4 linked regions of the Homo sapiens genome follow. The protein of the gene in region 2 purifies or fractionates together with the protein of the main gene of each other region. This does not show direct contact. Each region holds a gene or a part of one and is shown on either strand. Other genes may lie near its edges.

Evidence for each region.
Region 1: the proteins of PLK1 (region 2) and DVL2 purify together in Homo sapiens (affinity purification with mass spectrometry; 6 studies listed by BioGRID and IntAct, with this or other methods). This does not show direct contact.
Region 3: the proteins of PLK1 (region 2) and TOPBP1 purify together in Homo sapiens (affinity purification with mass spectrometry; 5 studies listed by BioGRID and IntAct, with this or other methods). This does not show direct contact.
Region 4: the proteins of PLK1 (region 2) and RAI14 purify together in Homo sapiens (affinity purification with mass spectrometry; 6 studies listed by BioGRID and IntAct, with this or other methods). This does not show direct contact.

What each region holds. Positions count from the first base shown.
Region 1 is NC_000017.11:7,224,842-7,231,541, forward strand, and holds the end of DVL2 (segment polarity protein dishevelled homolog DVL-2), read right to left. Parts: intron 6,354-6,700; exon of another isoform or gene 6,040-6,353; intron 5,957-6,039; coding exon 5,887-5,956; intron 5,590-5,886; coding exon 5,444-5,589; intron 5,315-5,443; coding exon 5,205-5,314; intron 5,103-5,204; coding exon 4,967-5,102; intron 4,838-4,966; coding exon 4,747-4,837; exon of another isoform or gene 4,709-4,746; intron 4,607-4,708; coding exon 4,537-4,606; intron 4,434-4,536; coding exon 4,294-4,433; intron 4,205-4,293; coding exon 4,128-4,204; intron 3,204-4,127; coding exon 3,136-3,203; intron 2,943-3,135; coding exon 2,814-2,942; intron 2,695-2,813; coding exon 2,563-2,694; intron 2,429-2,562; coding exon 2,249-2,428; intron 2,118-2,248; coding exon of another isoform or gene 2,089-2,117; exon of another isoform or gene 2,046-2,088; intron 1,799-2,045; coding exon 1,580-1,798; intron 1,473-1,579; coding exon 1,024-1,472; 3' UTR 501-1,023; downstream 1-500. Other genes in the region: ACADVL (very long-chain specific acyl-CoA dehydrogenase, mitochondrial), read left to right, coding at 1-43, 116-256.
Region 2 is NC_000016.10:23,681,879-23,688,902, forward strand, and holds part of PLK1 (serine/threonine-protein kinase PLK1), read left to right. Parts: intron 1-185; coding exon 186-279; intron 280-1,991; coding exon 1,992-2,211; intron 2,212-5,590; coding exon 5,591-5,746; intron 5,747-6,789; coding exon 6,790-6,867; intron 6,868-7,024. UniProt on the Homo sapiens protein: Serine/threonine-protein kinase that performs several important functions throughout M phase of the cell cycle, including the regulation of centrosome maturation and spindle assembly, the removal of cohesins from chromosome arms, the inactivation of anaphase-promoting complex/cyclosome (APC/C) inhibitors, and the regulation of mitotic exit and cytokinesis.
Region 3 is NC_000003.12:133,658,940-133,666,209, reverse strand, and holds the start of TOPBP1 (DNA topoisomerase 2-binding protein 1), read left to right. Parts: upstream 1-4,697; intron 4,698-4,863; coding exon of another isoform or gene 4,864-4,984; intron 4,985-5,075; 5' UTR 5,076-5,082; coding exon 5,083-5,166; intron 5,167-7,059; coding exon 7,060-7,194; intron 7,195-7,270. Other genes in the region: uncharacterized protein LOC124909487, read right to left, coding at 3,162-3,311, 4,177-4,697, 4,864-4,984. UniProt on the Homo sapiens protein: Scaffold protein that acts as a key protein-protein adapter in DNA replication and DNA repair. Composed of multiple BRCT domains, which specifically recognize and bind phosphorylated proteins, bringing proteins together into functional combinations.
Region 4 is NC_000005.10:34,820,315-34,827,338, forward strand, and holds part of RAI14 (ankycorbin), read left to right. Parts: intron 1-1,417; coding exon 1,418-1,536; intron 1,537-2,641; coding exon 2,642-4,177; intron 4,178-6,015; coding exon 6,016-6,165; intron 6,166-7,024. UniProt on the Homo sapiens protein: Plays a role in actin regulation at the ectoplasmic specialization, a type of cell junction specific to testis. Important for establishment of sperm polarity and normal spermatid adhesion.

The sequences.
Region 1 (6,700 bases), on a different chromosome or scaffold from region 2:
GGCCCAGCATGAGAAAATGCTCTGTGACACCTGGTGTATCGAGGTGAGACTCGGGGCTGCCAAGCTCAGGTGAGGGCTGGAGGTGCAGGCCCAACCCCTCCTTCCCTCTCCCCAGGCTGCAGCTCGGATCCGAGAGGGCATGGCCGCCCTGCAGTCTGACCCCTGGCAGCAAGAGCTCTACCGCAACTTCAAAAGCATCTCCAAGGCCTTGGTGGAGCGGGGTGGTGTGGTCACCAGCAACCCACTTGGCTTCTGAATACTCCCGGCCAGGGCCTGTCCCAGTTATGTGCCTTCCCTCAAGCCAAAGCCGAAGCCCCTTTCCTTAAGGCCCTGGTTTGTCCCGAAGGGGCCTAGTGTTCCCAGCACTGTGCCTGCTCTCAAGAGCACTTACTGCCTCGCAAATAATAAAAATTTCTAGCCAGTCATGCTTTGCTCCTGTGTGACGGTTCTTTCCCCCTGCTGCCTGCCTCCCTCCCAAAGAAAGGAGCCAGAGGCGTGGGGAGTTTGCCTCTATTGCTTTATTTGGTGTTTTATACAAGTGACTAAAATAAATAGAGTAACAAAGGCAGCTACATGGCCCAAATCTCCCAGCTTCCTCAGGCTGCTGTCTAGGATGCCTAACCCCGGGGTACCGCTGACCACCCCCAACCCTGCAAAGGGCAGGGCTGTGGGTAACTGGAGGAGGAGGTCACATTCTGGGGTTAGAAGGGGCCCAATGGATGGGAATTCTTCATATAAAAGAGGAAATGCCTATTAAAAAAGTCCCAAAAATGTAAGAAACTCTATTTTAACCCCCAAAAAGGCTTATAAAAAAACAAAGCTAAAAATAATCAAAGGTCCCTTGTCTACCCCTGAGGGAAGGGGGAGGAACCAGGCACTGCTGGTGAGAGTCACAGTGGCCACAATCTCCTGTATGGCAGCAGCTGGTAGGCTGAGCCCAGGCACTGTAAGAGCAAGCACATGACGGCCAGGACACCCAGTCACACACCAGGAGCGCCCGGCCCAGCCTGGCCCCACAGTGGGCTACATAACATCCACAAAGAACTCGCTGGGATTGCCCATGGCCATGTGGAAGCTTTGGCGGCTGGCTGTCAGTTCTGGGGGCACAGAGCCCAGGTCTCTGACTGGAGGGGCCCCCGGAGGCTGCACTGCTGGAGGGACTGGAGGTGGAGGTGGGGGCATCATGACCACCATCATGGGGTTGTAGGGGAGGGCCATGCCAGGGGGCGGTCCATAGGGATGGAGCCCTGGGTGGGCTCGGAGATTAGGGGCACCCCCAGTTGAGCCTCTGGATGGAGGAGGGCCCCCATCGCTAGTCCCACTTGCTTCCCCACCCCGCCGAAGGCTGCCCCCTCGGCTGGAGGGCTCAGACTCACTGCCACTGCCGGACTTGGACTCGGGGGCCCGCTCCTCGGGCCTCCCCGTGCGCCCTGCCCCCCCATCACTCCGTGTCGACCCACTGCTCCGGCTGCCTGTGGAGGGAGGGGAGGGGCAACTGAGTCCTCACCCAGGCTCCTCCCTGGCTCCCCTCTCATCCACCCTCAGATCCTGGCCGTACAGGTATGTGGGGATGACTTACCCTCACTATGCTGGCTGCTGGCACTGCCCCCACCATAGGTGTAAGATGAAAGCTCATGGTAGGGTGGAGGCTGCGGGCTGTAGGGGTGTGGGGCAGGGTATTGGTAGGAGAAAGTGGGCAGCAGGGGCCAGGGGGTGGCCCCAGGCAGAGGAGCCAGGGTATCCTGGTCTGAAGCCCCACTGGAGCCATCGTTGTCATTGAGAGACAGGTTGACTAGGTCTGGAAAGCAAGGGAAGAGAGGAAGAAATCACTGCTTCAAGAGGCTAGGGCCCCAAGACACCGAATGGAGAGGAACTGGGAACAGTTCTCCCAGACCCACCCACGATGGGGCTCAAAACAGGGGTTCACAAGGGTCTCTGACAAGAAACTCCCATCTACTTCTGCCATGAGGGCAGGGGCACAGCCACTAGCCCACGTCTTTGCGGGACTCAGGTAAGAGGTGCACCTTCCCCCGGTGGACACAGTCCTGCACCTGGCACATGGCTTGTCCAGCAGCACATGGGTGGACGTCAGCCCCCATCCTCGGCCAGTGCAGGACCTAGTGCGGGACACACACTGCTCGACCATCCATGGTGGCCCTGGCTGCGGTTTCTGGGCTAGGTCTAGGGTTGGAGAGGCAGAACAAGGTAGGCAAAGCCACACTCCCAGAGTTGGGGCAGGGGGACTTACAGCTCTCACAGCCACCACTGAGGTCTCCGAAGACGTAATAGCACTGCTCAGAGAAGGTGATCTTGTTGACGGTGTGTCGGATCAGGCCTGCTTTGAGCAGCCCGCTGGCATACTTGCGGGCCTCCCGCCGCTCAGGAAAGCCCTCCACGTGATGGTAGAGCCAGTCAACCACATCCGAGCCTGGGAGCACCCACAGTGGAAAAAGGCCTCAGGTTCTTCTTCCAACTCCTGCTCTCGCCTCTGCCTGTGCCATTCCTGGCTTTGGTCACCACCTCCTCCCCTTCTCCAGCCACCTGCCCAGGACCCAGCCATACCCAGAAAGGCATTAGGGATGGTGATCTTGAGCCACATGCGGTCCCGGACTTCCAGTCCAGACTCTGGAGCTGCCATGGCCTTGGTCACCGATGCCATGTCCGTATGGACGGAGAGACCCCGGCCTTCACAGCCTGGCAGAGGAGACAACGGGTAACCAGAGTCAGGGATCGCTCCCACAAGGGCAATGGATCAGACCACTGCGGGACAGCCTTCTGCTGGGAGGGTGGGATGAGGTGGGCTGGCGGCTCACCATCAGGCAAAGACGATCCAGATGTAATGGTGCTCATGGAGGAGGAACCTGGATAGGCTGGGAAGGTGCCAGTCAGAGCCGCGGAATGGGACACCCAGGCAGCAGGGTCAATTGGCTGGATGGGCTCATCTGGGACAAAGATGGCACCAAAATGACCCATTCTCAGTCCCCAAAAGCCAGCCCAGTCCCTCCCTGACTCAGCCTCCTGTTCCACCTCTGCCTGGACCCTCCTCCCACCCATTCCCCATGACCACAGGCCCGGCCCCAGCCTCCTGGGCAGCCCCCACCCCCAACTTCAGGCCCCTCCCTGAGTGTCACTCACTTCGGGGGAGAGTGAAATAGGCCTGAGGAGAGGGATCCCAGCACTTGGCCACAGTCAGCACAATGGGGCTATGGGGAAGAGAAGTCCAGTCAAGGGCGCAGGGGAAGAGGAGGCCTCAGGAGGGCGGGGGTCTGAAGCAAGGATGGATTAAGAGACACAAAGAGGGGGAGAAGCAAGCACATCGCGGCTGGGCTAGAGAAGGTGAGGGTGGAAGGCACCACAATGTGGATGACTCATCAACATGGAAAACTCTTAAAAACATACTGCCAAGTGAGACAAGAGAGTACACGCTGTACAGTTCCATTCACAGAAAGTCCAAAAACAGGTAAAACGAAACTGCAGTGTTCAAGGATACGTGCAAGGGTGGTAACTATCCAGTGAGGCAAAGCTTTTCTTTGTTATGGTGATGGCCAAAGAAGTCAGGAGAGTGACTACCCCTGGGGCAGTGAGGCATTTGGGAGCAGGAAGGGACATCTGAGGAGGAAGTTCTAGGGTATCAGCAATCTCCTATTTGATGATCTAGATGGCAGTGACATGGATATTTACTCTAGTATTATTTGCTATGTCATGCATTTGTTTCATGTACTTTGAACGTTATGTCTTAGCACTTTTTTTTTTTTTTGAGACGGAGTCTTGCTCTGTCGCCCAGGCTGGAGTGCAGTGGCGTGATCTCGTTTCACTGCAACCTCCACCCCCCAGGGTTCAAGTGATTCTCCTGTCTCAGCCACCTCACTAGCTGGGACTACAGGCATGTGCCACCATGCCCACTTAATTTTTCTATTTTTAGTAGAGACACGGTTTCACCACATTGGTCAGGCTGGTCTCGAACTCCTCACCTCAGGTGATCCACCCATCTGGGCCTCCCAAAGTGCTGGGTTTACAGGCTCGAGCCACCACGCCCGGCTGTCTTAGTACTTATTAAAATTCCAAAACAAAACATGAAAGAGAAAAAAAAAGAGGACTGAGGACCGGCAACCTGCTTGGCAACTCACCCAGGCTTGTGCACAATGTCCCTCAGCACCCGCACAGCGTCATCGTTGCTCATGTTCTCAAAGTTCATGTCATTCACCTGGAAGCGACGGCAAGTGGGTCAGAGACACGGTGGGAGAGGCTGAGGGCCCCCGTGCAGGGCAGCTCAGTGGCCCTACCCCAGCACACCTGCAAAAGCATGTCCCCTGGCTCAATGCGCCCGTCGGCCGCCACAGCCCCACCCTTCATGATGGAGCCAATGTAGATGCCTCCGTCTCCCCGCTCATTGCTCTGGCCAACAATGGAGATACCCAGGAAGTTGTACTTCTCTGTGGAGAGAGGCCATGTGAAAAGAGGAGCCCCTGCCACAGGACGCCCGGAACCCTAGAGACCAGGCCCTCCCCACGCCCTAGCCACAGGCTCTCCCCATACCCATGTTTAGCGTGACTGTGATGATATTGAGAGACATTGTGGAATCTGTGACGCTGCTGAAGGATGACGTCTGTGGTGGGAAAAGGAGCCAGAGTGCCCTTCAATAACCCAGGGTCAACCCTGGGGTGCTGCCGGTGTCCTGGCACCGCCCAAACCAAAGCCCATGCCCCACCTTCTCCCAGCACCAGCCTTCCTGTAGGAACCCCTCACCCTCTCCAGGCGGGGTGGCCTCTGCTTCCTTCGCCGCCGGTGGCGCTTAAGGAGGCGGGAGGCACTGCTCTGCTCCGTGGAGCTGCTGAACCTACCAGGAGGTTGGGAAGGAGAGCAAACGTAGGCCAAAGTGGTCATGGGGCCAAGAGAAAGAACAAGAGGATTGACTGGAAGACGAGACGGGGCTGGGTGCGCTGGGGAGAGCTGTGCGGAGCCACACCTGCTCATGGTGTCCTCCTCGTCCGAGTCCCCCAGGCTGGTACTCTCCAGCTCGCTGGTCATGAGGGTAGAGGAGCTCTCGTATCCGGCCAGGTGGCGCTCCAGCCTTGAGGGGCCACCAGTCCTGTGGCCCCCAGCTACATATGGACAGGAAGCTCAAGAACCAAGCTTCCCCCTGCTCACCCCACCAAGGCTGGGGTCTGGCCCAGCCCTTCCCGGCCCCCAGGCCTGCCCCTCACCGCCATGCTCACTGCTGTCTCTCCTGCGAGGCCGCTCCCGCCTCAGTGACACTACTGACTCGGTTTCTGTCTCAGGCTCCAGATTCTCATGGCTGCTGGACACATTAGGGCTGGACAGGCAGAGATGGTTTCCAACCCACATCAGGAGAACAGGGCTCCGGATCCTAGGCGTCCCCTACCAAAGGCCTGGGTTCCCTCCTCACCTCCCTCCCCTGCAGTCAAGAATCTGAAGGACTCACTGGAAGGATGGAGGCCTTGAGTCCCCAATGCCGCTGGTCCTCTCGGGTGGCAAAGGAGGTAAAGGTGGGGCTGGAGGCGCCAGTTCTGCCCGAGGCTCATGGACTGGAGGGGCCATCTCGGGTTGGGGATTATCTGAGGACACCAGCTAGAAGGGTGCAAATGATAAACAGTGGCTCACTTGGGAGTCAGGGTGTGACAGGTGGCAGTAAGTGAAAGAATGAGAAAGGGTCTCAGAGAGCTGGAGAAGAGCAAAAAAACCTAGCAAGTATTAGAGACTCCAGAAGGAGAAGGCTGAGGGCCTCTCGCCGGCTCTCCAAACAGACAGGAGGTAAAGAGCCAGGGCTGCTAACGCGCGGCCTGGGGAGGATACAGAAACAGACTGAGGCTTGAGGGAGCTTGGCAATGCTGAGGGGGCCTGGTCCTCGGTGTCAGAACCTCTTACCCAGGATACCACCCTTCCGTTGAAGCAGGGGAGGCGGGCGTTGTCATCTGAAATTTCTTCCTTCACCACCCTGCCAAGCGACAAGGTAGAGGTCAGTGAGCTGGACCAACCATCCCCACCCCGACCCCCATCAAACTTTCTCCCAATCTTCACCTGGCTCCAGGATGTTGACTTTCTCCTGCCCTGTTCAGGTCTTCTCTTACATTGAAAGAACTCACTCCGACACCTAAGAAATCTCCAAACTCAATCCCCTTTCCTTATTTCTCCTCTCCCTAACGCACCCTCAGGGGCACAGTGCTGCTCCAAAGACTTCCTTGAGTCTGACTCAAACCTCTTAGTCCAGTTTCAAAAGCAATCCCGCACGCTGATGCGGCTGCCTGAGATACCTATCTAATGAGACTGGCTGGTGGCCTCCTCTCAACCCCACCCCTGTTCCTTACAAACCTTCCAAAAAGGTCAGGCACGGTGGCTCACACCTGTAATCCCAGCACTTTGGGAGGCTGAGGCGGGCGGATCACCTGAGGTCAGGAGTTCAAGACCAGCCTGGCCAGCATGGTGAAACCCCATCTCTACTAAAATACAAAAATTAGCCGGGCATGATGGTGGGTGTCTATAATCCCAGCTACTCAGGAGGCTGAGATGGGAGAGTCGCTTGAACCCGGGAGACAGTGGTTGCAGTAAGTCGAGATCGCGCCACTGCATTCCAGCCTGGGCGGCTCAAAAAAAAAAAAAAAAAAAACCTTCCAAAAAAGGCTTTGGTCCTCATCAAAGCCTCTACTCTTATACTTTCCTTTAGTTTTCTCTAATTCATTTC
Region 2 (7,024 bases):
GCTTATTCTAGCCAATGTCATGGCTTCTGGGGCTGCTCAGTGGACTTAGGGATTGTCTTCAGGGGCCCCAGAGTTAGAGTGAGTGTCCAGAGGATGCCTGACCTTTGTTCTGACCCTGAGATGATTTCTCTCATGTCTGGGTTGTGGCTGGGAGACTGGTGCCAAATCCTACCTTGTGCTTACAGGTATACCTTGTTAGTGGGCAAACCACCTTTTGAGACTTCTTGCCTAAAAGAGACCTACCTCCGGATCAAGAAGAATGAATACAGTATTCCCAAGGTGACTAATGATGCTTTAAGTTTACATTTATTTTGTTTTCCCCAGAAGCTGTTTATGGAGCCCAGCAATATCCTAGGACCAGAAATAGGTCTATCCCACCTCTAAGGTAGCCACAGAGCTTGAGAGGGCCTGTGTCTGAAATTGCATACAGAACTTGACATGTATGTGCACATAAGCATTTTTTCTAGGGGGAGAGAGTTGGCAGATTCTCAAGAGATTGGGTAACCCAAAAGTTGTGTAAAAAGCAAAAAACAAAGGAGGTAGGAAGGAGTAGGAGGCAAAAGTGCTTAATCTTTAGAAATGGTTTATCTTAATTCAAATGGATTCTGCCACTTAGCGAGATCACATTGGGCAAATGGCCTGCATCTTTTTTTTTTTTTTTTTTATTTGAGGTGGAGTTTTGCTCTTGTTGCCCAGTGCAGTGGCATGATCTTGACTCACTGCAACCTCCACCTCCCAGGTTCAAGCGATTCTCCTGCCTCAGCCTCCCAAGTAGCTGGGATTACAGGCACCCACCACCTCGCCTGGCTTTTTTTTTTTTTTTTTGTATTTTTAGTAGAGACGGGGTTTCACCATGTTGGCCAGGCTGGTCTCGAACTCCTGACCTCAGGTGATCCACCCGCCTTGGCCTCCCAAAGTGCTGGGATTACAGGCGTGAGCCACCATACCCAGCCTGGCCTGCATCTTCTGAACCATAGTTTCCATATATAAAGTGGAGTTCCTGCCTTGGAGCACCTCACAGAGTGCCTTGCATGTGGTGAGTGCTCTCAGAATTATGAATCACTGTGAATCCCAGGGCTTCCTAATGGCATAGTTGTGTGCATTTTCTTTTTTTTTTTTTTTTTTTTTTTGAGATGGAGTCTCGCTCTGTCGCCCAGGCTGGAATGCAGTGGTACAATCTCGGCTCACTGCAAGCTCTGCCTCCCAGGTTCATGGCATTCTCCCGCCTCAGCCTCCTGAGTAGCTGGAACTACAGGCACCAGCCACCATGCCCGGCTTCTTTTTTCTGTATTTGTGGTAGAGACAGGGTTTGACCGTGTTAGCCAGGATGGTCTCGATCTCCTGACCTTGTGATCCACCTGCTTCGGACTCCCTAAGTGCTGAGATTACAGGCGTGAGCCACCGCGCCCGGCCATGGTGTGCATTTTCACAACCACCAACAGAAATACATTTAAAGGAATAGCTGGTTCCTGCAGAAGCCTAGCACACAGCCAGTTTGAAGTGTAGTGTCCTTGTGTGAAGCCAGGAGGCCTGTCACCATAAGGACAGACATAGTAAATCCATCACAAAGTGTCAGTTCACTGTCAGAGACAGCATGGAATCAAGCCAGCTAGACAAGGCCTTCACCCTCTCTGTGCCTCACTTTCCTCCTCTGTGAAAAAGGGATGATAATAGATCCCCACCCCTTAGATGAGTTGGTGAGGGCTAAGTGAGCTAAACACAGGAGTGCTTAGAATGCTTTCCTGGCACATAGTGAGTGCTAGGAAAGTGAGTTGGTGTTCGGCCACAGTCCATTGACCCTTCTGTCAATGGTGCTCAGTAAAGCTGACAGTGGAGAACTTGGCATTGAACCAAGTTGTGAACCACTGACCTGTGGTGTATTTGAGACTGGGGGCTGCATGTGGGCTGGGGACCTGCAGCTCCTTTGAGGCCGTACTGTACTCCAGGTCCCCTTCACATTCTGCTTATGGCTGTCCCTCTCTCTGCCCCAGCACATCAACCCCGTGGCCGCCTCCCTCATCCAGAAGATGCTTCAGACAGATCCCACTGCCCGCCCAACCATTAACGAGCTGCTTAATGACGAGTTCTTTACTTCTGGCTATATCCCTGCCCGTCTCCCCATCACCTGCCTGACCATTCCACCAAGGTTTTCGATTGCTCCCAGCAGCCTGGACCCCAGCAACCGGAAGCCCCTCACAGTCCTCAATAAAGGTACAACAAGGGTCTGGGTAAGAGAGCAGACCCCCCAGAGAAAGCCCAGGTTGTAGGGGTGTGTGCAGCTTAGTCCCTGGCCCTGAGAGCTCAGGTGTGGAGTAGGACAGGCCTCTGTCCTTCAATCCGTGGTTCCAATGCCCATCTGCTTCTCGGCCCTGCCAGGAAAGACTGACCTTACCATGGCTGGATAAACGTACCATGCCCAAGAAGAAGAAAATGGATTGAATGCCAAGCCTGAAAAATTCTTTCAAATCACTTTAATTAATTTAATTTTTTGGAGACAGGGTCTCTCCTCTATTTTCCAGGTTGGAGTGCAGAGGCACAATCACAGCTCACTGCAGCTTTCAACTCTAGGGCTCAATTGATCCTCCCATCTCAGCCTCCCAAGTAGCTGGGACTGTCAGGCATGCACCACCATGCCTGGCTGACTTTTCTAATTTTTGTAGAGACAGTGTTTTGCCATGTTGCCCAGGCTGGTCTTGGAACTCCTGGGCTCAAGCGATCCTTTCACCTCCACCAAAGTGTTGGGATGACAGGCATGAGCTGCTACATCTGGCCTTTAAAAAAATTTCTAACACTTTTTCATGATTCATTGAAAAACATAAAAATTTCCTTTTTTTTGTGGCGTGATCCCGGCTCACTGCAAGCTCTGCCTCCCGGGTTCACGCCGTTCTCCTGCCTCAGCCTCCTGAGTAGCTGGGACTACAGGCGCCCACCACCATGCCCGGCTGTTTTTTTGTATCTTTTAGTAGAGACGGGGTTTCACTGTGTTAGCCAGGATGGTCTCAATCTCCTGACCTCGTGATCCGCCTGCCTCGGCCTCCCAAAGGGCTGAGATTACAGGCGTGAACCACCAGGCCCGGCCTTTTTTTTTTTTTTTTTTTTTTTTTTTTTTTTTTTTTTTTTTGAGACAGGGTCTGGCTCTGTCTCCTAGGCTGGAGGGGAGTGGTATGATCTCGATTTCACTAAGGATACATAGTTTTAAAAAGTCACTTGAAATACTTTTTTTCTCTGTGGATATATCACCAATTTGATGTACAACTTCAGTTCATTTTTCAGTTTTCAATTTTTAGGTATTGGTTTTTCTTAAACTTCATTTTGGAATAATTTTAGGCTTATACAGAAAAGTTGCAACAACAACAAAAAACTCCCCAGAGTTCCTACATACCTTGCAGCAATTATTACAGTGGAATTTTTTTTGAGACAGGTCTCAGGACTTGCTGTCACCCAGGCTGGAATGCAGTGGCTCACTCATAGCTTACTGCAGCCCCAACATCCTGGGCTCAAACAGTCCCCCTGCCTTACCCTCCAGAGTAGCTAGGACTACAGGCATGTGCCACCATACCCAGCTAATTAAAAAATTTTTTTCTTTGGGAGGCCGAGGTGGGTGGATTGCCCGAGCTCAGGAGTTCGAGATCAGCCTGGGCAACATGGCGAAACGCTGTCTCTACTAAAAATACAAAAGACTAGCCGGGCGTGGTGGTGTGCACCTGTAATCTCAGCTACTCGGGACACTGAGGCACAAGAATCACTTGAACCTGGAAGGCGGAGGTTGCAGTGAGCCGAGGTCTCACCACTGCACTCCAGCCTGGGCAACAGAGCGAGACTCTGTCTCAAAAAAAAAAAAAAATTTTTTTTTTGTAAAGACAAGATCTCACTATGTCGACCAGGCTTATCTCAAACTCCTGCCCTCAAGTGATCCTCCTCGGCCTCCCAAAGTGTTAGGATTTACAGGTGTGAGCCACTGTGCCCTGCCTAGAATGATGTTCTAATGGTAATTTTTCTTTTCCTCACTTTTTTTGCATTTAATAATTGGAATTCTTCTGTAAGGAAGAGCTGTTCCTTCTCTCCGATTGATTTATTTATTTGGTTATGTCTGAAATAGACTCATGGATATTTTTATTCTTTGGGCTATATTTTAAAGGATTACTTATTTCTCTGCTTTTATTTATTTTTTTAAATTTGAGACAGGGTCTTGCTCTGTCTCCCGGGCTGGAGTGCAGTGGCACAGTCGTACCTCACAGTAGCTTTGATCTCCTGGGCTCAAGTGATCCTCCAGCCTCAGCCTCCCAAGTAGTTGAGACTTTAGGCATGTGCCACCGCGTCTGACCAATTTTTAAATTTTTGGTAGAGATGAGGTCTTGCCCACACTGGTCTCAAACTCCTGAGCTCAAGTGATCCTCCTGCCTCAGACTCCTACTTTTTTTCTTTCAGTTTTAATTTTTTATATAGCATTTTAAAAACTTAAGGAAATTTTCAGTTACCCGAAGGTGGAGAGAACTGTATGATGAGTCCCATGTTTCATCTATTTTTACTAGTTATCAACATTTGGACAGACTGTTTTATTTATTCCAGCCTCCTGCCTTTTTTGTTACCGGTGTTTTAAAAAATTATTATTTACTATTTATTATTATTTATTTGAGACATTCTTGCTTTGTTGCCCAGGCTGGAGTGCTGTGGCAAGATCATGGCTCACTGCAGCCTCCACCTCCTGCGTTCAAGTGACTCTCCCACCTCAGCCTCCCAAGTAGCTAGGACTACAGGTGTGCCACCATGTCCAGCTAGTTTCTGTATTTTTAGTAAAGACAGGGTTTTGCCATGTTGCTCAGGCTGGTCTCAAACTCCTGAGCTCAAACAATCTACCTGCCTCGGTCTCTCATAGTGTTGGGATTACAAGTGTGAGCCACTGGGCCTGGCCTTGCTGGAGTGTTTAAAGCAAATCCCTAATATCTTATTATTTCATACCCAAGTCCCTATCATGACATCGTTTTTTAATTGAAAACTTAAACATTTTATATTATACAAGGAGAATTAGCACATGGTGGTGGGGGAATAAATAAATAAGGAAAAAGACAATAAGAATAATCTGTGTTTCTACTGCCCAGATATAATCAGCGTTAAAATTTCATGTTATCTTTTCAAGCTTTTTTGGTTATAAATAAGCATATAAAGCAAATTTTGGGGTGGAAAAAAATTTCTTGTGTTTTTATTTAAATGCCTACTGAATCCATTCTGTGGATGAACTGAACTACTCAGCCCTTCCATCTGCCTGGATGCTGAAGATGCTTTCCATTCTTTGCTCAAAGCTGGGCAGCTCTGAGCTGCTGGTGCCTTCAAGCTGTTTGCCTGAGTGGCAGGTCATCCTGCAGGGCCACACCGTTGGGTCAGAGGCCACGGCTTCTGAAGATCTGTTGCCTCACAGTGAGCACTATGTGCCTGTCACCTGAGCATGGCAGCTGCTGCTCTAGTAACCAGGCACTGATTCAGTTTCCCCAAAGCAGTGGTAGCTAAGAGAATTTTTCTTTCGGAAGAGTTTCAGCTGTGGCAGGGGAGTCCCGTGCCCTTCCCAACGCCCCTGTTTTTGTCACCTTCCTAGGCTTGGAGAACCCCCTGCCTGAGCGTCCCCGGGAAAAAGAAGAACCAGTGGTTCGAGAGACAGGTGAGGTGGTCGACTGCCACCTCAGTGACATGCTGCAGCAGCTGCACAGTGTCAATGCCTCCAAGCCCTCGGAGCGTGGGCTGGTCAGGCAAGGTGGGTACTGCGGGGCCCTGGGCGGGGCAGGATTGCTTGGGGCATCTGGAAAAGGCAGGAGGAGGCTTGGCCAACAAAGCACTGGTGACTTGTTCAGGCCCTGTCTGCATAGGACCATTGGTTTCCCCATTTCCTGATATCCAAGGCCCTGCTTCCGTGGCTCCTGCCGCCTTTTCTGATCCGTCTTTTTTACTCTAGCACCTCGATGTGCCACCTTCATACGCTGTTTCTTTTGCTCAGTAAGTTCCTATTGTATCTTCAAGACCCTTGAAATAACAGACCCAGATGTACTGCAGCCTCAGGGCTTTCTCCCTGGTCCTGGCACGAAAGCACTTCTTCCAGACACCACATGGCTCACACTGTGGCCTCCTTCAAGTGTCTGCTCCAGTGTCAGCTCTGTGAGCATCTCCCTGGCCCCTCTGCTGGTGCTTCTCATCCTCTTGCCCACTGCATAGTTCTCCATAACACTTCTCACCCAACATAGTCCAACATGTCCTTCTTTGTTTATTGGATTTAAATTAAGGGGTTTGTTGCATGCACTGAACGTAACATTTTGATGTGTTTGCAACTGGCTTCTGTCTTCACAGTTTCTTAATTACTCCAAACTGGAAAACTAGATGCCTCTGACTCTTACCATGATAGAAGTCACTGATATTTTGCCCATACTTAAATTGATTAGTCTTTGCCCCTACAACCACAGTGTAAGCTCCGTGGAGGCTGGGGTTTTGTCTGTTGCTCACTGAACCTGCAACAGTGCCTGGCACGGTAGGCCTTCAGTAAATGGGTCAGTGGAATGAAGGAGTGAGTGGAACTTGGTGCGCTGTGCTGAGACTTTCTCTGCAGAGATATCTGTGCTGCTGCTTGTCTGAGCCTGCTGGCAGCAGAGGCCCTGCTTTGCTCTTCTCTGGGGCCCTAGGCCTCTCAACTGAGCCCAGGTGGGGTGCCCAGCAGGCTTCCCTGTTCCCTGGTGTGGGCCACATGTGTGGAGCAGAGGGGAAGAGGCTGGTCCTGACCAACTAACTGTCTGTCTGTTTCTGTCTCAGAGGAGGCTGAGGATCCTGCCTGCATCCCCATCTTCTGGGTCAGCAAGTGGGTGGACTATTCGGACAAGTACGGCCTTGGTAGGTTTCTTCCAGAACAGGTGGGTGACTCAGGCACAGCCAGGTGACCTTTTCAGTTGTTACAGACTCTGGCCTTTTTGAGCTCCCAGGTACTGTTCTCAGTGCCCTCCTCTCTCCATCCCAGGCCTCCCAGTTCCAGCTCCCAGTGCTCCCTGAC
Region 3 (7,270 bases), on a different chromosome or scaffold from region 2:
CAGAGCGAGACTCCATCTCAAAACAAAAACCAAAGCAAATTGTACATTCATTTATTTATACGTATTTATTCATTTACAGCATTGGAAACAAACATAAAACTCTATAACTCAAAAAACCTATTTTTAGTTTGGCTTTAATTTTGAGAAATATTATCTATGTAGTAAAATATAATAATAAATATTCATATTCCCACCACCCACATTGTAAAAGTAACTATTTTGTCATATTTGTTTCCTGTGTTTTCTTTCCCGTTCTTTTTTTTTTTTTTTTTTTGAGATGGAGTTTCGCTCTTTTTGCCCAGGCTGGAGTGCAATGGTGCAATCTCGGCTCACCACAACCTCCGCCTCCTGGGTTCAAGCAATTCTCCTATCTCATCCTCCCGAGTACAGGCGCCTGCCACCATGCCTGGCTAATTTTTTTTATTTTTAGTAGAGATGGGTTTCTTCATGTTGGTCAGGCTGGTCTCGAACTCCCGATCTCAGATGATCTGCCCACCTCGGCCTCCCAAAGTGCTGGGATTACAGGCATGAGCCACCACTCCCGGCCTCCTTTTCCATTCTATAAACAGATAAAGTTGCCCATAATGTCACCCCAAGCAGGGTCTGGAGAGACTGGCTCTAGGTGACAGAAGTGCCAGAGAAACAGGAAACTGATCCTAAATGCCAGGAAAGTGAGGGAAAAGTTAATTCCCTACCCCAACTACATTTTTTTTTCTTTTTCTTTTTTCTTTTTTTTTTTTTTGAGATAGGGTCTCACTCTGTTATCCCAGGCTGGAATGCAGTGGCATGATCATGACTCACCACAGCCTTGACCTCCTAGGCTCAGGTGATCCTCCCACCTCAGCCTCCTGAGTAGCTGAGACTACAGATGCCCGCCACCACGTTCAGCTCATTTTTGTATTTTTTGTAGAGATGAGGTTTCACCATGTTGCCCAGGTTGGTCTCAAAGTCTGGGGCTCAAGCAATCTGCCCACCTTGGCCTTCCAAAGTACTAGGATTACAGATGTGAGCCATAGCACCCGGTCCCCAGCTTCTTTTTTAAAAAAGTTTGTAAATATTAGAGATGGGGGTTCTTGCTACGTTGCCTAGGCTGGTCTCGAACTCTCAGCCTCAAGTGATCCTCCAGCCTGGGCCTCCTAAAGTACTAGAATTACAGGCGAGAGTCACCACGACCGGCAAATATGGAATGCTTCACAAATTTGCATGTCATCCTTGCACATGGGCAATGCTTATCTCTGTATCATTCCATTTTTTTTTCAGTAAACATGCTGCCAAAGTAAGCACCGAAACCTCAGCTTCCGAGGGCATATCATAACCTTTCCCTGTTTTCACCAAAGTCTTCAGGGACCACAAACCCATATACAGTTAGTTCCTTGTATCTGTGGGTTCCACATCTGAGGAGGTCAACCAACCGGGGATCAAAAATATTCAGAAAAAAAATACAATTTTTATGTAAAATTTGCCATAGTAGAAAAAATACAACAATAAAAAAACAAAATTTAAAAATACAGTATAACAAACGTTTACATAGTATTTACATAGCATCAGGTATTATAAGTAACCTAGTGATTATTTAAAGTACATGGGAGTGGCCAGGCGCAGTGACTTATGCCTGTAATCCCAGCACTTTGGGAGGCTGAGTCAGGTGGATCACGAGGTCAGGAGTTAAAGACCAGCCTGGCCAACAAGGTGAAACCCGTCTCCACTAAAAATGCAAAAATTAGCCGGGTGCGATGGCAGACGCCTGTAACCCCAGCTACTTGGGAGGCTGAGGCAGGAGAATCGCTTGAACCCCGGGGGTGGAGGTTGCAGTGAGCAGACATTGTGCCAACTGCACTCCAACCTGGACAACAGTGAGACTCCGTCTCAAAAAAAAGAAAAAAAAAGTACATGGGAGTATGTGCACAGGTTATATATAAGGTACTTGAGCATCTTCAGATTTTGTTATCTGTAGGGGGCCTTGGAATCAATCCTCCGTGGATACTAACCATTTCACCCTTTCCTGAAGGACTGCTGTTCAAGCAAACTTTAATGTGTACCAAAATCACCTGAAGGGCACAGATTGCTAGCCCTACCCCAAGTGCTCCTGACTTAATAAGTCTGAAGTGGAGCCCAAGAATTTTCATTCCCCCAAAATTCCCAGGAGATGCCGATGCTGCTGGTCCAGACACTACACATCAGAACCACTGCTTTATCCATTTTCCAGGAGTAGATACTAGAGACAGACCCTCTCTGCTTATCTGGAGACACAAGATGGGAGAACTTGCCCCCTAGTGGTGAACTCTTACTCTAAAGACAGGTCACTCCTCTGGTATCAAGTTCCGGCTGGGTAAAAGCTAAAGGGTGCATTTTCTTCATCTTCATTAGCAGCATCTATGAATCTCCTTCTCTTGTGAGGTCTCTACTTGGCCCAGAAATGCCAGGAATGGGCTCCCTCCCCGGTGTGGAACTTCACACAGAGATGGGCAGACAGCACGTGCCCAGGAGCAGTGTGGTGTGTCAGGAAAGGCACGGGCAAGTGACACAGTCCCTGAACTTCACTTTCCCCATCTCCATAACATGAGACAATGATACCCATCTATTATAGGGTTGCTGAAAAGAGTAAACGGGAATAGTGTGAGCAGGAGTCCCATGTTAACTGTAAAGTGCCCTAGAAATATTAATTGTTATTACAGATTCAGGTCAGATTTGCACCTTAACAATTAACTGTGGTTTCTTTTTTTTCCCACCTCTAGTGATTTTTGTTTTTTTGCTTTTAAGGCTTTCTTCACCCTTCCCCCAGCAATAGGCCTTTACCTTTGAGCCCCAGTGTTAATTGATTCTGACTCATTTCTGGTAAAAAAAAAAAAAAAAAAAAATTAATGATATTTATTAAAGCACAGTAAGACAGATTTTATTCCGGACCATCAGGATAGGTATAGCAACCATGGCAATGGGATTCTGAATTAGGAGAGAGAGAGTGGGCTCAACTCTAAATACACCATGGGCAAGTGGGAATTTATAGCCAAGGAACAAAAAGCTTGGGGTCACTGGATAAAAAATTACTAAGAAGGAACTTCAGGAGTAAAGGGGTTTCTTGCTGAAAATAGGTCAAGGTGATCAGACATCACCTTGGATGGTAGAGGATGAGGAACCTGATCAGATATTGAGGGTAGAGGGTTCTAACTGGATTTTCCAAGGAAATGCACAGATAAACCTACGAGAAGGTTGAGGAGTCTGACTAAAGTTTGGCCAAGCAAAGAATCTTTGTCACCTTCCATCGGTGTATTCAAAAACTTAAGACTCAAGCTGCTCATTACTATCTTTAGGCTCTAAAAAGAAAAGAAAAACAAAAACAATCAAGGGACATGGCATTATACTTTTACATTAGTAAATCCAAAGTCATTTTCTCAATCTCAGCAGTGAATAATAAAATGATCCTCATTAGTATAGTGGCTAGATTTTATAAAATAAGAAAAAATTTTTTTAAAAAAGAATAAAATGAAAAGAAGCAACAACGAATCAGTTTTCCGCTGGTTATCACTAAGGTTTGCAGGCCCATCTTATCCCCTCTCCCTTTGCTCTCTGCCATCTGAATCTTAGGTTCAGTCCCAGAATCTCCCCAGTACTGAGGCAGATGCAGAGAAAGAGAACGGCGATGTCCACTGAAGGGGAGGAGGAGGGGAGACCATTGAAGATCTTGACAAAGATCCCTTTGCATTAGCTGTGTAATAAGTCATCCTTTCTTCCCTTGCCATCTTGTGGCTGTGTTAGGCGGTGATTCTATTCCTGCTGTGTTGGAGGGAAACCACCCAGTCCGTAGTCAGAAGACCTGGATGCAGTATTAATTCTACCACCTACTAGCCGTGTGCCCTTGAACCCATCATTTAACTTCCTCCGTTTTTACATCTACAAAATGGAACTACCACTATTTGCCTCACGGAATTGTTTTGGATAATACCTTTTCCCGTGCATGCCTGGTATAAGACAGGTGTAAAATAAATATCTATTGAGGAAATCCTTTCTTTCCCTGGCTTTTTTAACAGTAAAGGAGTATTCCTGGCCTGTGGTCCTACCTCTTGAACCGACGGCGCTGGGCCTACTCGCAGCGGAGACTAGGCCCGCCCAGCAAAGCCCTAAACCCAAAGGGTCCGGCCCAAGCTTTCCCTGAAGCCCCACCGCCCACAGACTGCTCACCTCCACGTTTGACATTTCCGCTCTTCTGCTGCAGCTGCCGATGGCGTCACTTCCACCGGAAAAGGCAAGCGCGGCCGCGCGGTTGGCGCGAAAGTCGGTTCCCGTTCTGGGCAATTTCCGGGTTCTCCAGCGTTTGCTTTGGGGTAGGGGCGGCGCCGAGTCGGGGGAGGGGGCTGTGCGCCGGGCTGGCGCCCGACCCCAGCCACCGCCCTGCGGCCAGCGCGTCCCCCGACTCGCCGCCCGGAGACCCCGAGGCTCCAACGAGGTAAGTGAGGCGCGGAGTGGGGACACAGCTCCTCCCCAGCCCCAACTGGGGTTCGCGATGCCTTCTGTGGCCTTCAGGACCCTCTTTTCCTGTCCTGGTAACTGGCCCTGGAGCCGGCGGGTGGGCCTTTGACGCCGAGAGGACGTGGCTTCCGTGATCCCAGAGCCAGGCCTTTTCCTGGAGATGGGAACCGGAGCATCTAGCCTTATGCAGGGCCAAGACCATGCTAACTGGCTTCCATGTTTATATTTAAAATCTGTTTACTGAGGGATGAACGTACCTCGCAGGCCGTGGGTATCCGCAGGGACAGATACACTCTGTGTATCCTTAAAACAAGTGCAATTGAATGTCCATTGGCCTAAAGGGCTTAGAGCCTTCATAGCAGGGCCTTCCTCAGTGTATTCAATTCGGGTTAATTTTGCTGTCTGATTTGCAAGGATTGGTGTTGTCATCTTTTACCTTGGCTTTGTCCAAGTTCCAGGATTTCTTAGAAATGCCGTTGACGAATTCACGGGCAGAGCCAGAATGTCTGTCTTTAGGCATTCTTGTCTGCACAGAAAAATAGGTAGGTTAAACATGCAACTTTTTATCTAATGTGGTTTTGTTCTTGTTAATGGTTCCTTTATTTTGACAGTTCAGAAATGTCCAGAAATGACAAAGAACCGTTTTTTGTGAAGTTTTTAAAGTCTTCAGACAATTCCAAATGTTTTTTTAAAGCTCTCGAGGTAAGAGTTGAAAACATCTTAATACCGTGAATTCATTTTCTTGTTTTTAAGTGTTTTTGATTTGTTGGGCTTTATGTCTTAGAAGTAGATATTTCACTTTCATAATAATTTTATAGTCTACATTAATACAGATATATCATTATCACATATTTTTGAATTGATCTAAGTACATCATTATGTATTTCGGGGGGCTGGAAGTCTATTATCACATTGCTGTTTAATATGGCTGACCTACAGTTCTTGGAAATTAAGTTGCTTTCATTTGTCTCCTAGCCAGAGTGGTCCTTTGCGTGCTGTAGAAATTTGAGTCAGTTGTGTACTGGTCATACTTGAAAATTTTTTGGTTAATTGTTAAAAATTATGTTTTATTATGTACAGTATAATAATTGGATGATAGTAGGGGTGATGTAGATCCTTGCTTCTCACAGAACCCAGCAGTATCAGCATGGCCTGGAAGTTTCTTCGAAATGCAGAATCTTGGCCTCCAACCCAGACTTAGAATCTGCATTTCTAACAAGATCTTCAGTGTGCATTAAAGTTTGAGAAGCATTTGTAGCAGATTTTTTTAAACTTCATTCATTCAGCAAGTATTTATTGAAGTGTTCATGATTTGATAGGCACTTCTCTAGTACTTGGGATTTATCAGTGATGAGAACAGGCAAAGATTTCTGTTCTTTCAGAGCTTACATTCTAGCAGGAGGACATAGACACTAATCAGACATGATAAATTAGGAAGAGAAAAAAGCAAAACACGTTAAGGGGTTCCAGAGGATGTTTCTTGGGGTGGGAAGAGAAGGGGGTTATAATCTTAAATAGGGTGTGATCAGGGTAGGCTTTATGAAGAAAAAGATATTGAGTAAACGTGAAGGAGGTGAGATAGCCTTGCAGATATCTGGAGAAGAATGTTGCAGGCAGAGAGAGCAACCTTATACAGCCCCTGGGAAAGTGCCTGTAGTCTCTATCCAAGTTTAGTGTACTGTTGTGTAGTGAGTGAGGGATGGGGGAAGAGTACTAAGGAATGCGTTAGAGAATAATGGTAAAGAGGTCATGTAGGGCCTTGTGGGCCATTTTTCTCTCAGTGGAGAGCCATTGGAGGGTTGATAATCAGAAGAGTAAACATGATCTGACTTACAGTTTTAAAGGGATTACTGTATTTAACATAAGGACCTCAAAATTGGTTCAGAACATTTCTGAGTGCTTACTGGGTGTCAGGATATAGTAGCAAACAAGATACATAGAAACTTCCAGGGGAGAGAGACAAAAACTATATATATATATATAAATACGTATTTTTAAATAGAATAGACTAGAAGGGTAGAGGAAGGGTATTTGAGAAAGCCTGATTAGGATGGGCATCTCTGGGGAGGTGACATTTAAGCAGACCTGATTGAAGTGGGGGATTAAGTCAGGTGAAAACCTGGAAAAAAAGTATTCTGTGCTGCAAGATCAAGAGCAGAGCCTCTAAATGAGGTTATGGTTGGCTTGTTCCAGGGTTGGCAAGAAAGCGGGAGTGGCTGGAATAGAATAAGCAAGAGAGATGAGAAGTAGGAGGTAAAGGTGGAAAGATAGGCAGGAAACCAGACTGTGTTGTCTTGAAGGCTGTAGTAAGAAATGTGGATTTTATTCTGGGTGTGGTGTGAAGACATTAGGTTTTGAGCAGATAGTGACATGATCTGACTTGTGTTTTTGAAAAGATTATTAGCTGCTGTGTAGAGAACAGATTTAGGGCAAGGAAGGGAAAAAGAGACCACTTGGGAGCCTTCTGCAGAGGTCTAAGTGAGATGTGATGGTGGCTTTCAATAGGGAAAAGGCTGGATTTGAGATGGAATTTGAATAGGACCTAAATACAGGAGAGTAATTTCAGGTACATTCTTATTTTATTTTTTCTTTCAGTCCATAAAAGAATTCCAATCAGAAGAATATCTTCAGATTATTACAGAAGAAGAGGCATTGAAGATAAAGGAGAATGATAGATCACTTTATATCTGTGACCCTTTTAGTGGCGTTGTCTTTGATCACCTCAAAAAGGTTTGCTGACTTCTAGTGTGTACCTTTGGTAGTCTATTTTTTGGTTTATCTTTGCTTTAATGGACATACATTCTTT
Region 4 (7,024 bases), on a different chromosome or scaffold from region 2:
CACACCTGTAATCCCAGCACTTTGGGAGGCCGAGGTGGGCAGATCACCTGAGGTCAGGAGTTCGAGACCAGCCTGGCCAATGTGGCAAAACCCCGTCTCTACTAAAAATACAAAAATTAGCTATTACATAAAATTATTGAGATTTTATGTAATAGTTAATTATTGAGCATGCCTGTAGTCCCAGCTACTTGGGAAGCTGACGCAGGAGAATTGCTTGAATCTGGGAGGCAGAGGTTGCAGTGAGCCGAGATCGTGCCACTGCACTCCAGCTTGGGTGACAGAGCAAGACTCCATCTCAAAAAGTAATAATAATATTAAGTTTGGACCAGAAATTCACACAGTTACTTCACTAAGCACATTGTTTTGTTCAGCTGACATATCTTTTGTAGGACTTTCTAGATGAAGGAAGCAGTACATTGCATTGCATTCTGGAGGAAGTTTGCTATCTCTGTGAGCACCTTGAATAGCACTCCTTAAGTTGCAATTTCAGCATGATAATCAGTAGGATGTCCGAAAGTTGTGGTTTACCAACAGGGATTACTGTGGGATTCAGAGAAGAGAAGATAGTTTCATGCTAGGGTGGTCTTTGAATGCTTTAAGGACTGGGCAAAGTTTGACATGATGCTTAAGAATTCTCTAGGCAGAGAGATTCTGCAGGGCAATCCTGTGGATAAAGAATGAAAGAATCAGCCGTGTGTTGAGAATGTAGAGGGTGTGATGGGAACCATGAATCTGAGGAAAATAGGAATCTAGAAAAGTAGCAGTGTCATGAACCTGAAGAAGTAGACTGGAGCCAAATCATAGAGGCCTGAACCCAGATAAAGGAATTTGGAGATTATTTTTGGAGGGAAAACAATTAAAGCACTTGACCCAGAGGAATGACCCAATCAAAGTATGTTTTAGGAAGACTGGTCTGACGTTGCTGTGCAGGCTACAGTTTCACTGGGAAGAAGAGAGAGGCAGAGATTTGTTGGGAAGCTGTTTGCAGAGTTTCCAAGTAAGGTGATAAAGTCTTAACTACAGTAATGGTGGTAGGGGGAAAGAAATAAACCAGATTCCAGAGACATTTCTAAAATGATTCACATAACTGAGACTTACAAGGCACAGGGAAGAACCAAAAACAACCAAGATATGACACTTAAGCAAATGAATAGGAAATATATGACCAAATTCATCAATTTTCAGATTGCCTTGTGTACACATGTATCTAGTATTGTGCTAGCAATACCACAGTAAGGAAACCCCAGTTTCCTTTCTATATAAAATGAAAATTTTAGTTCACCCATCCAGCTGCTAGGGCGTTTTATAATTAGGGCCAGGAAGAAGAACTGGATTAGGCTAGGAAGTGAATTTGTCTCAGGTTAGAGAAATAAGAGTTTAATTGTTTTATATTTTAAATGGCTTTCTCTTTCCCAAGGTGCTGATAGCTTATTGGATATAAGTTCTGAAGCTGACCAACAAGATCTTCTCTCTCTATTGCAAGCAAAAGTTGCTTCCCTTACCTTACACAATAAGGAGTTACAAGATAAATTACAGGTATATAAATAGATTGCTATCATGGACTATTCTGTAGAGTCAAGCTCTTGGTCTTTTCAGTAGTCAGATGTATTTTGTTTTAAATGTGTACATTAGTTTCTTTTTAAATATTAGCTTTAAGCATCTTATAGTTTCAGATTATTTGTTTCATGAGAGTGTTATTCATTAACTCTTTCTGTAAATTATTCAACTGGTAAATTATAAATAATTATACACATAGTATGATCAGTATTAAATATTCTATATGTTTAATAAATTATATAAATAAAACAAAATTTATAGAAAAAATTCTATATAAAATATACTATATGCATAGAATGATGCATAATATATAATTTTATATTTTGATTTTATATATATTAAAATTTTACGTTTTAAATTATATATGTATGTGTGTATGTATATATATATATATATATATATAAAATATTATCCATTTAGTAAAGTTGATCATTTAACAGGTTTAAGTACTTGATAAGAAATGGCTGTACCAAAAAATAAGAAGAAGAAATAGCTGTACTATATATCCATTACCCCTCTTGGCAAGTAGAATGATATAAGAAATAAAGGAAATTTTTGAATTGGAGGCTTTGTAGAGAAAACAATTTTAGTGTTTTCAAAGTGACACAAATCGTCTGTCCCAATAGAACCCAAAGCAAGCTTTGTGTCATTAGTCCCACTCATGTCCCAGACTGTCTTTTTTCATGGCATGAGAATACACAGGCAAAGTGATCATGCTACTCTCCCGTACCAAAGTTGCGGATTTACTCCTCTCATTCTAGTTGCTTGCTTAGCTAACCACGCCTTTGGTATCTTTTTTTTTTTTTTTTTTTTTTTTTTTTTTTTTTTTTGAGACGGAGTCTTGCTCTGTCGCCCAGGCTGGAGTGCAGTGGCGCGATCTCGGCTCACTGCAAGCTCCGCCTCCCGGGTTCACGCCATTCTCTTGCCTCAGCCTCCCGAGTAGCTGGGATCACAGGCGCCCGCCACCACGCCCGGCTAATTTTTTGTATTTTTTTTTAGTAGAGACGGGGTTTCACCGTGTTAGCCAGGATGGTCTCAATCTCCTGACCTTTGATATCATTTAATTCTTGCTTTTTTTTCCTAGGCCAAATCACCCAAGGAGGCGGAAGCAGACCTAAGCTTTGACTCATACCATTCCACCCAAACTGACTTGGGCCCATCCCTGGGAAAACCTGGTGAAACCTCTCCCCCAGACTCCAAATCATCTCCATCTGTCTTAATACATTCTTTAGGTAAATCCACTACTGACAATGATGTCAGAATTCAGCAACTGCAAGAGATTTTGCAAGATCTACAGAAGAGATTAGAGAGCTCTGAAGCAGAGAGAAAACAGCTACAGGTCGAACTCCAATCCCGAAGGGCAGAACTGGTATGCTTAAACAACACTGAGATTTCAGAGAACAGCTCTGACCTCAGCCAGAAACTTAAAGAAACTCAGAGCAAATACGAGGAGGCTATGAAAGAAGTCCTTAGTGTGCAGAAGCAGATGAAACTCGGTCTTGTCTCACCTGAAAGCATGGATAATTATTCACATTTCCACGAGCTGAGGGTCACGGAAGAGGAAATAAATGTGCTAAAGCAGGATCTGCAGAATGCATTAGAAGAAAGTGAAAGAAATAAAGAGAAAGTGAGAGAGTTAGAGGAAAAACTGGTAGAGAGGGAGAAAGGTACAGTGATTAAGCCACCTGTGGAAGAGTACGAGGAAATGAAAAGTTCATATTGCTCTGTTATTGAGAATATGAATAAGGAGAAAGCATTTTTGTTTGAGAAATACCAAGAAGCCCAAGAAGAAATCATGAAATTAAAAGACACACTAAAAAGTCAGATGACACAGGAAGCCAGTGATGAAGCTGAGGACATGAAAGAAGCCATGAATAGGATGATAGATGAACTCAATAAACAGGTGAGCGAGCTGTCACAGCTGTACAAAGAAGCCCAGGCTGAGCTGGAGGATTACAGGAAGAGGAAATCTCTAGAGGATGTCACAGCTGAATATATCCATAAAGCAGAGCATGAGAAACTGATGCAATTGACAAACGTGTCCAGGGCTAAAGCAGAAGATGCACTGTCTGAAATGAAGTCTCAGTATTCAAAAGTGTTGAATGAGTTGACCCAGCTCAAACAACTGGTGGATGCACAAAAAGAGAACTCTGTCTCTATCACAGAACATTTGCAAGTGATAACCACGCTGCGGACTGCAGCAAAAGAGATGGAAGAAAAAATAAGCAATCTTAAGGAACACCTTGCAAGCAAGGAAGTGGAAGTAGCAAAGCTGGAGAAACAACTCTTAGAAGAGAAAGCTGCTATGACTGATGCAATGGTACCTCGGTCTTCCTATGAAAAACTCCAGTCATCCTTAGAGAGTGAAGTGAGTGTGTTGGCATCGAAATTAAAGGAATCTGTGAAAGAGAAAGAGAAGGTCCATTCAGAGGTTGTCCAGATTAGAAGTGAGGTCTCACAGGTGAAAAGAGAAAAGGAAAATATTCAGACTCTCTTGAAATCCAAAGAGCAAGAAGTAAATGAACTTCTGCAAAAATTCCAGCAAGCTCAGGAAGAACTTGCAGAAATGAAAAGATACGCTGAGAGCTCTTCAAAACTGGAGGAAGATAAAGATAAAAAGGTTGGTGAAACTGTATTGCTGTTGGGTTTCTAGCAATAAGTCTTAGTCTCTTTGGCTTTTACTATATTAAATATTTCTAGTGTTGGCACTAAACTGGAGTGAATGCTCAGAGGCTCTGCACATGAACTTTATCTGTCACCAAAGCCACATTAAGAATAGTTTGTTGGGTCGGCCGGACGTGGTGGCTCACGCTTATAATCCCAGCACTTTGGGAGGCCGAGGTGGGTGGATCACTTGAGGTCAGGAGTTCAAGACCAGCCTGGCCAACATGGTGAAACCACGTCTCTACTAAAAATACAAAAATTAGCTGGGCGTGGTGGCACACGCCTGTAATCCCAGCTACAAGGGAGGCTGAGGCAGGAGAATGGCTTGAACCCAGGAGGTGGAGGTTGCAGTGAGCCAAGATCAGGCCACTGCACTCCAGCCTGGGCAACAGAGTGAACAGACTTCATCTCAAAAAAAAAAAAAAAAAAAAAAGAATAGTTTATTGGGTATTTGTATTTTAAAAACACATCTGCTGGGCATAGTGGCTCACTCCTCTAATTCCAGCAGTTTGGGAGGCCATGATGGGAGGATGGCTTGAGACCAGCCTCAGCAATATAGTGAGACCCCATCTGTACAAAAAATTTAAAAATTAGCCAGGCATGGTGGTATGAGCATGTAGTCCCAGCCACTTGAGAGGCTAAGGCAGGAAAATCACTAGAGCCCTACAAGTCAAGACTGTCATGAGCCATATCAACACCACTGCATTCTAGCCTGGGCAACAGAGTGAGACCCTGCCTCAAAAAATAATCAATAAGCAAACATCAATCTTCGGCCACTTCTCCTTATACTAAAGCATTTTCATATATCTGTCCTTTAAAAATCATTTTACAGAAGCTTTGCCAGTATTGGGGATCAGAAGTGAACCTGCAAACTGGAAAGTATTTGTGATCCACCTCAAACTTCAGGTTCTTTTTTTGGATTCAGAACAGATTCCTCCATAATATGAAACTAAAATACTCCTAGACTTAATCCTGTTTCCCTAAGGTCCATGAGCTTCCCCTCAAGTCACTGTAAAAGCTACCCTCGCCGGTCCCTCCTTTGACAGGTATATAGGAGAGGAAGGGGGAGGAATGTGGGGAGCCGGCAATTTGAGATGGCGCTGGACACAAGAGATGGTGCTGGCCGTGCTGCTGGAGGAAGGAGGGAAGCAAAGGGGAAGTTCAGGGGGATGGTTCCACGCCTCAATCGGCTCTGCATCTCTAGTCCCCTGTCTCGGAGGTTCCGAATAGCATTCATGAGAGACTACTTGTCTTTATTCTTTTGTAATGAGTGTTTCAAAAGAGCTTTATCATCCAGGGGAACAGGGATTAGGGAGTGGTGGGGTACGGTGAGGAGTTAGTTGTGTTTACTTTAAAGAAAGACGTCCAGAGATATCAGGCTTCCTAGACCTTATTCCTGATCACCCATGTCAGCAGTATTGGACAAAATATAGCTGTCTCCAAATAAAAGCGGAAATCCTAATTCTGATTTTTTTTTTCAATCATACCCATTTTAAGAGTAAAAGTAGGAAACCAACATCACAGCTTTTGTTACCGCCATCACCAAAACATAATATGTAATTCAAGGGCCTTTATCTGAACCTAATGGATGTAGCGGGCTTTGTTAGTTTGCCTGATTTTGTCATCCATTTCATTTTATGAGTTTTTTAATTTAAATGTATTAAAAAGGAATTGTTCCAAAGTCTTAAGTCCCAGAGGCCAAAAGAGATGACTATGTTTGAGGCTTACAAATATATGAAATTTTGCTTTGTAGACATGTTACTGTCTGCTAATACCATTTTCCTTTGCCCCTAGATAAATGAGATGTCGAAGGAAGTCACCAAATTGAAGGAGGCCTTGAACAGCCTCTCCCAGCTCTCCTACTCAACAAGCTCATCCAAAAGGCAGAGTCAGCAGCTGGAGGCGCTGCAGCAGCAAGTCAAACAGCTCCAGAACCAGCTGGCGGTGAGTGGGCTTGTTTCTGCTGCCTGGTTTGGGGTGGAGGGCCTGGCAGATTTCCTACCATCTCAGCTGCTAGGGCAAGTGGGCGTGAACAAAAAGATTCCCAGCCCAAAGGAATGTACTTCAATGAGCAGTTGACTGATTTCTTCAGTGAGGGCAAAAGAGGGAGCCACTGGTGGAATTCCTGGTCGTTATCAGCAATGCAACGGGTCAGATATTCACTGGGAAGGAAAGAACCGACAGGACAGTAGGAGGAGGCTATGTGCTCACTCATACCCTAACTTTTTACCCCTTCTCCTTTTTCTGCAACAGTCTTTCCCCATCTCTGGCAGTGGCAAGAGCTTTTTCTTGTTAGGGGCCAGGATCTCTAGTAGTTGCATCTCTATATATCTGAAGCTGCTTCTTGGCCCCTCTCCTTATTTCACCCAGGAAAGCCCTTGCTTATCTAAATTTGTTTCCTGGGTCCATTGTAACAAATCACCACAAATTTGGTTTAAAACAACATGAGTGTATTATTTTACAGTTGCATTGAACTGAATTCCAAAATCACTTTCACTGGACTAACTTCAAGTTGTTGGCAGGGCTGGTTCCTCCTCGAGACCATAGGAGAAAATCAATTTCCTTGCCTTTTCCAGTACCAGAGGCTGCCTGCATTCTGTGGCTCATGGCCCCTTACTCCATCTTCGAGGCACATCACTCCAGCATCTGCTCAGTCTTCCCATCTCCTCCTTCAGCCTTTGATTTTCTTGCCTCCCTCTTATAAGGGCTCTTGTGATTACATCTAAAGCCCACCTAGATAATCCACGATAATCTCCCTCTCCATCTCAAACCCTTAATTTCATCTGCAAGATGCCTTTTGCCA